Regions from separate parts of the Homo sapiens genome. Here all the other regions are linked to region 1. Evidence: fine-mapped expression QTL. A gene starts in region 1. Each other region holds a variant in brackets. All regions are shown on one strand. Distances are from middle to middle. Region 1 holds the start of CHD5 (chromodomain helicase DNA binding protein 5). Region 2 overlaps CHD5 (chromodomain helicase DNA binding protein 5). Region 3 overlaps CHD5 (chromodomain helicase DNA binding protein 5).

The links. PIP is the estimated chance that this variant, and not a neighbour inherited with it, causes the effect. A credible set is the group of variants that fine-mapping cannot tell apart.
Region 2: its variant is the best candidate, but not a certain one, in a credible set for the expression of CHD5 in whole blood (TOPMed, PIP 0.51).
Region 3: its variant is the best candidate, but not a certain one, in a credible set for the expression of CHD5 in blood mononuclear cells (TOPMed, PIP 0.69).

What each region holds. Positions count from the first base shown.
Region 1 is chr1:6,178,561-6,181,308 of GRCh38, reverse strand. CHD5 (chromodomain helicase DNA binding protein 5) reads left to right here and starts at 988. Exons shown (of 42, transcript NM_015557.3): 1 at 988-1,364. The coding sequence starts at 1,286. RefSeq lists enhancers at 1,731-2,230, 2,231-2,732.
Region 2 is chr1:6,155,517-6,158,264 of GRCh38, reverse strand. It overlaps CHD5 (chromodomain helicase DNA binding protein 5), which reads left to right. Exons shown (of 42, transcript NM_015557.3): 4 at 2,548-2,666. Among named protein-coding and RNA genes, the nearest start is that of CHD5, 23 kb to the left of the region's middle. The variant C/T (reference allele first, on the strand shown) is at 1,545.
Region 3 is chr1:6,150,482-6,153,229 of GRCh38, reverse strand. CHD5 (chromodomain helicase DNA binding protein 5) reads left to right here. Exons shown (of 42, transcript NM_015557.3): 6 at 694-818; 7 at 2,075-2,198. Among named protein-coding and RNA genes, the nearest start is that of CHD5, 28 kb to the left of the region's middle. The variant C/G (reference allele first, on the strand shown) is at 1,703.

The DNA of each region.
Region 1 (2,748 bases):
CGGGAAGAAGGGAAACTGCTGCCGATCCTGCGTGTCTCAGGTGGGTTCCCCCAGTGCCCCTGCGAGGCAGTGAGAGGGGGCCCTCCCTTCACGGGCCTTCTGGGGTTAGAGAGCTGGCGGTCGGCCAGCCCCTGGAACTTTTGCGTTCTTAAGGTAGCTTTAAGACTTGCCGCCGCGGAGACTGGAGGCGCTCATTTAAAATTCCAGTCTTGCTCCCGAGGGCTTTGGCCTCCATCTTCACCTTTAACGACCGAGGGCTGGTGGCGGCGGCTCCTTCCTGCTCTGCGACAGGTGTCGCTTCTGAGCGGGAGTTTTGGGCACAGACATCGCAGATCCGCACCACCCCTAGGGGTCTGCATGGGTTTCAGCTGCACCCAGCCTGGAGGGGCTTTTTGGAAGGGGGCACGTGGGCGGTGGGAGCGGGGAAGCAGGTGAGGGGAGCCCGCCTGCGCGGATTTTTCTGCTGTAAATCAGACCCACAGTCTCCAGAGCGTCTTTTCCCCAAGTGTGGAACACATTTTTCTTCTAATCCTCTTTGGAGAGGGGGTTAGGAACGTGCCGAGGCCGGAGCCGGGAGCGGGGTGGGTCCCGGCGCCTGTGAACCGAGTGGGGGAGCGGGCCGCGCGCTGCCCTGAAGACCCTGCCTCCGCGCCCTTGGGGGCTCGGGGCCCAGCGCCTTCGCAGGCGAGCGGCGGCGGCTGGCTCTGCCCGGGGTGCGCGGGGGCGGTGTTTCCTCGCCTCCCCCTGCGCCCGGGCTCGCCAAGCCCCGACTGCCCGCTCGGCCGTCGGGTCCGCGGGCGCGCGGACGCCTCGACGGCTCCCCCTGCCGGGGCGCCCCCCGGTCCCCACCCTCACCCGGCGGCTCAGGACTAGTCCCCCAACTTGTTCTCTGCTGTTAACTAGTCGCGCTGCCGGAACGATGGGATGGGGTTGCCACAGCAACCAGACTGGACGTCACAATCCGGGCATGTGTGCCGCCCCCCCGCCGTGCCGCCGTGCCTCTGGCGCTGCCGCCGCCACCCTCGGCCGGCTGCGGGACTCGGGCTGCGGGGCGCGGTGGGAGGAGCGCCCGGGCTTTGCGGGGAGCAGGCTAAGGCGGCCGAGAGAAAGGGGGGTCGAGACGGGGGGGTGGAGGTTTGGGGGGGTGGGGGGGCAGGCGGCCGCCATCTTCTCGCCGAGGCCGCCTCGCCCGCCGCGCGCGCCGGTCCGGCAGCGCACGGGTTAAGGCTGGCACCGCGCCCGGCGGGAGGGGGGGCGCCCACCTCCCCTCCTCCCCGCGCCGGGCATGCGGGGCCCAGTGGGCACCGAGGAGGAGCTGCCGCGGCTGTTCGCCGAGGAGATGGAGAATGAGGACGAGATGTCAGGTGAGCGGGGCGCGGGTGCGCCTGGGGCCAGAGCGGCGGGGGCGCCGAGACGGGCCGGGCCCAGGGCGGAGCGCGGGCGGCGGGGGCGGCGCGGCCGGGCTGGCGCCTCGCAGGAGGGGCACCCGGGTTGCGGGGCTGCGCTCCCGCCCTGCTGGCGCCGCGCGGCCAAGGGCGAAGGCTGGGTGAGCGCCCGGGCCGGCGTGAGGGCGGCTAAGGGCGGGGTGCGATCCGGGCCCCCCGGGCGGCGACGCGGGCCAGGCGGGCCAGAGGACCGCGGGCCGGGGCCTGCGCTGGGGGGCGCGGCGCTGTCAGGGTCAGCCCGCGTGCCCTTGAAGGGGGCGGGAATCGCGCTAGCTCCCGGAGCGGCGCACCCCGCGCTCGCGTCCCGCCGCCGTGCGCCTCTGGCCTCGCTGCGGGCAGGCGGGACCCGGCCCCTGGCCCATGTCGGCCGCGGGGCGGGCTGGGTGGGGCCCAGAGAGGGGCGAGGACCGGCGGTGCTTGGGGACGCGTTGAGCGCCCAGGATGGGGCGGCTTCCCTCCCGGCCCAGGAGGACTCCGCTCTGGGACGCACGGGCTCGGACCCCTGCTCCTCTTTCCTGGCCTCTGTGCGCTGTGACCGCCGCTCCCAAGCACTTTACCCGGGCCGCCGGCGTCCTTCTGGCGCGACCTAGCGCCCGCCGCTGTCTCCAGCCTCACCATCGCCCAGGGTGGTGGCCGTTCCCAGCCCACCCTGCCTTGGCTACGGGCCTGACGCCCCAGGGCCACCGCCCCTGCCCCTACCATCTCTCTCCTTTTATCTCTCTCAGAATTTAGTATACACAGGGCTGTGCGCCAGGGGTTGCCTTGCGGGACAGTTCTTTAGTTAACTGCTCACCATTTGTTTGGGACGTTTTCCCTCCTGGCACAGCTGGGTAGGGCCCCACCCTGTCAGCCACCCTCCCTCCTTTCTGGGAGACTCTTACTTCTCGGCTTCCCTGCGCCAAGTCTGTGGCCTCTCTGGACTTCGGAGAGACTTGTGGGAGGCTGGAGGCCCTCCCGGGCCCAGGAACGTGCATCTGGCCCCTTCTGACTTCCAGGGGTGAGAAGACTCCACAAATGGACACCTCCAGCTCCTGTTGGAGGAAGCAGCCAGCGTCTTCTGGGGAGGGTATTCCCACCAGGTGGCCACACCCCCTGCCCCCTTCTGTTTGCTTGCTTGGTTAGTTGGTGGCTTTAATGCTGTCACTGAGCTCCTACAGGAGCCCGGCACTCACCTCGCCTGTTAGACAGGCCAAGTTGGCAGCGAGCGTGCTGGGGACGGGGAATAGGGGAGTCCTCTCTTGGGGTGGAGTTGCCTGGACAATAGTTGACTGTCATATCCTGGGTCCTTGGAATTAGACCCATT
Region 2 (2,748 bases), 23 kb after region 1:
GCGTCCCCAGGAACATGGGAAATGATGTGAAGGAAGCCAGGCCTTTATGGTCATGCTGAGGTGCTCCGGAGTCTCAGAGGCTGCACCCTGGGGCTCCTTGGGGAGATGGAGAGGCCAGGGGTGAGGTTGGTGGACAGGCAGTGGGTGAGTGACAGTGCCATTCAGGAACACTGTGCTCCCTTTGTTCTTTTAAGAGACACCAAGGCTCGGTTTGGGCTGGTCACAGATTTAAAGATAAACGCTCTGTAAATATTAGTACAGTTGCTGTTGGGTGAGGCAGAAATCATGAATGTGAATAACTGAAGTTGGGAGGTGTGGGAGGAGGAGCGATTCTTCCTGGCGGTGTCCTGACACCTGGGGTGATTTCATGAGTCAGTGGAGTGTTGTGAGTCACCGGAGACGGATCGTCGCTGCGGGGCTGACAGTTCTGAAAGCTTCACTTAAGAGAGTGATTCAGGATCACCCTGTAACAGTATCATCCCCTCGCTCACCTGCTGCTCTGCTGTCCTGGGTGGGGACCAAGGGGTCCGTGTGCCATCAGGAATGGCCATGTGTGTCCACGGGGGCAGGTCAGCCACAGAGGGGGCCCCATGTGAGGAATTCTCTGAGCTGTCACAGAACAGGAGGCAAGAATGGGCTCTGGAGGCCTCCCGCAGCCTGGATGGGCAGACTGGTTCTCAGTGCTGGGAGACGCTCAGGGCAGCCTCCTGTTGCAGGAGCAGAAGCCCAGCTCCGGGGCCTAGGCAGTAGAGGGATGTGTGGGATCAGGGCCCTGAGAACTAAGAGGCAAGGGGCTTCGGGGTTGTGGGACCCAGTGGTGTTATCAGAGGCTGTCTCTTTGCATCATTCACTCTGCCTCTGCTGTGGCAGTGTTGGGCTCAGGCCAGGCACCCTCATGGCTGAGCATTCTTGTGGCTGAGAATGAGGGCAGCAGCAGCTCGGGGCTTCTTGGCCCCTCCAGCAGGAGGGAGAGCAGGCCTCCCATGTCCAGGTATGCAGGCAGGAGACCAGCATTCCCTCTGATTGGACTGGCTTAAGACATGACTGGCCTGACCAGACTTTGGCCTAGGAGTGGTGTGTACTGATTGGCTTAATGTATCAGGTTGGGTGGGGGCAGCTCAGGGCTGCTTGGAAGAAGTGGGGTGTCAGGGAAGGAAGAAGAAGGGTGGGTTGGGTGCTAACAATTGCTAACGCATTTTGACACACCCTGTTCCAAGCACCTGCACTAAGTCATTCTGTTCTGCAAGGCAGTGTGCCATTATCTCCATTTTACAGATGGGGAAACCGAGGCAGGAAAGTTAAGTAACTTATCCACTTCTTACCACCGGTATGTGGCAGAGCCAGGATCAGAACCAGCCCATGCCCACATCCGGCACCTCCCTTTCTGAGCCCCGCCAGCCCGGGCCTGGTCATCTGGTCACCTGACCCCTGGGCTAGCTCTCTTGAGAACTCACTGTGCCCCTGGGATGTCCCCCCACCCCAGGCCTCAGCAGTAGTTGGATCCTCTCAGGGCTGTGCCCCCAGGATGTCCCTCCACCCCAGGC[C/T]TCAGCAGTAGTTGGATCCTCTCTGGGCTGTGCCCCCAGCTGGCCCATTGTCCCATGCCCCTGCCCCAGCAGAGTGCACTTTCCTTTCACTGGAAACTGGCAGTGGCCTGTCCTTCACAAGGGCTGACGTAGCTATACCTGGCATCCTGGGGAGGCCTCATGTCTTTTTTTTTTTTTTTTTTTTTGAGACAGAATCTTGCTCTGTCACCCAGGCTGGAGTGCAGTGGCGCCATCTCGGCTCACTGCAACCTCCGTCTCCCGAGTTCAAGTGATTCTCCTGCCTCAGGCTCACAAATAGCTGAGATTACAGGCACACACCAACACACCCAACTAATTTTTGTATTTTAGTAGAGACAGGGTTTCAGCATGTTGGCCCGGCTGGTCTCTAACTCCTGACCTCAAATGATCTGTCTGCCTTGGCCTCCCAAAGTGTTGGGATTACGGGCGTGAGCCACCACCCCTGGCCTGGAGGCCTCATGTCTTTCTAAAGTGGCTTAGGCAGCCCTGGAGCCCTGCGGCCTCATCAGGGACATCTTCCCGTCTTCAGGCCACTGTGCTGTCCTGCTGTCCAAATCCCCAGAATGCAGTCCCCACAGAGGGCAAGTTCTGTTGTCCTGCCCTGGTGTCCCGAGGCTGGTCGGGCAGCCCTATCTCAGGATGGGGGCCTGGTCTCAGGCATCCAGTCTCCTTGCCCACACCTGGCTGATTTCCCTTTCTGGAAGTTCAGGGCACACACATGGCCTCTCCCCAAACCCTGACGTCGAACACTTGGCCTGCACTTCGTGGGCTGGCATCTGAGACGTGGCACAGATTGGGGGCTGCGGGGCTGCGGGGCTGCAGGGCTTGAATGTTTCCTAGGGTGGGTGAGAATGGTCTGGTTACATTGCAGACACAACCCCTCCTCTTTCCCCTGTGCCAAAGCCTCCTAGGCAGAGACCCTGGGGATGGGGGTGCAGGTCAGAAGGCCCCTCAACAACTCTACCTCTGGCCTGGGTCTCTGTAGGAGCCCAAGTCCTCGGGGCAGCTCATGGCCGAGTGGGGCCTGGACGACGTGGACTACCTGTTCTCGGAGGAGGATTACCACACGCTGACCAACTACAAGGCCTTCAGCCAGTTCCTCAGGTGGGCGGGGCACTAGGGCTGTTCTCCAGGCCCGCACATCCTCTGGTGGTACCAAGTCGGGAGGGAGGCAGAGGAGTGAAGC
Region 3 (2,748 bases), 28 kb after region 1:
ATTTTCCGCGGCGCCATGGAGGGTGCAGCTGGGCTCCTAGCTCCATGTCCGTGTGTGTGGTGTGGCCAGAGGACGGCCTGGGGAGAGGCTGCCTCTGTGGGGTGTGCATCCCTGCCTCCAGGCCCCCCTTCCTTCTTGGGTCATTACTCCCCAGGTAGCTAATTGCCCTGTGGCCAGCTCCATAAAAACAGCCTCAGCCCTGCTGGCCCTTGCTGGGGTTGACTGGCAGAGGTGGGGCAGTCTTGGGTGGGACCAGCATTGCCTGGCTGGCAGGTGGGAAAAGGCCTTTTGGCTCCAAGACATCCTTTGGGGGCTCAGGCATGGACCACAGGTGGGCGGCTGTGCCTTCAGTGGCCCTGCTGGCTGTGGGGGATGGCTAGTGCCTCCTTTCAGTGGTTGGAGACGGTATAGGGGATCCTCCCAAAAGGGCCACATTTCTGTGGGTCATGGACAAGGGGCAGCAAGGCGGTCAGGGCAGCCTCCAGTCAGAGCCGTCATCTGGTTTTTGCCTCACTTGCTGTGTGATTTTAAGCAAGGGGTTTACCTCTCCAAGCCTCAGGCATCTCATCTGAAACGGGGTGATGGTAGAAATGACCCTTTCCTTATTGGGTAACCGAGAGCTCAGTGAGATGATGGCAGGAAGCAGGCCGTCAGTGGTGGCAGTGGTTGGCTATCATCACTGCTGTTTTTCAGGGCCTGGAGTGAGGAAGAAGATCAAAGGCTCCAAAGATGGGAAGAAAAAGGGCAAAGGGAAAAAGACGGCCGGGCTCAAGTTCCGCTTCGGGGGGATCAGCAACAAGAGGAAGAAAGGCTCCTCGGTGAGTGTGTGCGTGTGTGCGCGTGTGTGTGCATTTGCATGCATGTGTGTCTGCACATGAGCACGCAAGGGCCAGGCGAGGGCCTTCAGTTCATTACAAACTAGCTGGGGCAGGTCGCACCCCTCCACTATTCTCCTTCCATCCTACATGCAGGTGTGCTGGGCCTCAGTTTCTCCATTTGTGTGATGAGGAGTTTAGATTGAATCCTTCCAAGGGCCCTTCTAGCCTGGACTCTGGGCAGGGAGTGCTCCCCTGGCTCACCCTCCTGAGTGGGAGCTCAGTCCTGGCTCCTGCTGTCCACAGCTGCAACTCCATTTGGGCAGGAGGTGGAGGGATCTGTCCTGGTGGGGCCTGGCCGCCCAGCACCCAGGTCTGCTCTCGGGGGGAGTAGTTGGGTGGGGGCTGGACCCTAGAGAAGTGGTATGTGGGTAGGATCAGGCTGGCTGGAGCCCCAGTTACCTCCTCCTGTCCTCAGGGCCAGCTCTGGGCCCAGGCTCAGACACTAAGCCCAGGTCTTACTCAGCCTTGGGGCCCCCCTTTCTCTGTGAGTGTGAGGGGCATTCGCCCTCCTCACCCCCACAGGTAGCTGCCTCCCTCACCTCACCCCAGCCCTGCGGTGGGTGGAGTTGGAAGCTCTTTCCCTGCACCATGGCAGGAGCCAGTGTTAGGTCTGGAGGGGAGCATGGAGAGAAGGTGTGGCCCGCCCTGGAGCTGACGGTCCAGTTCAGCTTAGCAGATATTTGTTGAGCACATACTGTGTACCAGGCCCGCTGCTCAGCCACAGTGGGCCGTGGTCCTGTAGCACTCGTCACCTGGCAGGCATGTTTGCTGGTGGAGAGCCCGTGATGTACCAGTCAGACAGGACAGGCCAGACCTGGCACACA[C/G]GCAGCCACAGTAGGTCCAGTAAAGGAGAGATCTGGGAAGACTTCTTGGAGGAGGTGTCCCTAGGGCTGCCCCTTGAAGGATGTTTAGGAGTTTGGCAGGATGGAGGGCAAGGCCTGGGAAGCTGTTCAGAGGTGGAAATTGTGGGAAGTGTCTGAGGCTGGAGAGCAGGGCTCTGGGTAGGCGGTGGGACATCAGGCTGGACAGGCAGGCTGTAATGTGAGGTTTTCAGCTGTGTTGGGGGCTGAGATGAATCACAGAGAGCACTGTGTCTCCAGAGCCTCTTCCGTGCTTTGTCCCACCCCACACTGCCTGGGCCAGCGAAGCCTTCTGGGTGAAGCCCTGGGATCACAGGACCCTGTCTTCCCCTGCAGAGTGAAGAAGATGAGAGGGAGGAGTCGGACTTCGACAGCGCCAGCATCCACAGTGCCTCCGTGCGCTCCGAATGCTCTGCAGCCCTGGGCAAGAAGAGCAAGAGGAGGCGCAAGAAGAAGAGGAGTATGACTCCCCTTCCAGAGAGTTCTTGGCCTGCTGGGTGGATGTAGTGGGGCACGAGTAGGACTCCCCATCTGGACGGTTCTCGGCCTGCCGGGTGGATGTGCGGGGCATGGAACCTCCCCGTGGGAAGCAGGGGGAGGGCATCCTCATGTCTCAGCCAGGTGGGGCCCCTGTGTTTCCCACACGGCCCTGGTTTCTACTGTCTGGGGAGGGGCATCCTGTCCCAGTAAGGAAAGAACAAGGAACCTATGGTGGGAGCTACCCCAGGGCATTTGCATTAGCAGTGTGGTGACTGGAGAGGGAAGTGCTTCATCTCATCGCCATCCTCCCTTCAGTCACCCCCCACCCACTTAACACCCATCTTTACCTCACCTTCCTTCCCATCCCTCCTTCTCCCTCCTTCCCTCAGTCCCTTCTTTTTATCCATCCATCCTTCATCCATCCAGCCATTCATCCATCATCCATCATCAATCCATTTGTCCATCCATCCGTCAGCTATCCATCCACCATCCATCCATCCATCCATTCATCCATCCTTTTGTCCATCCGT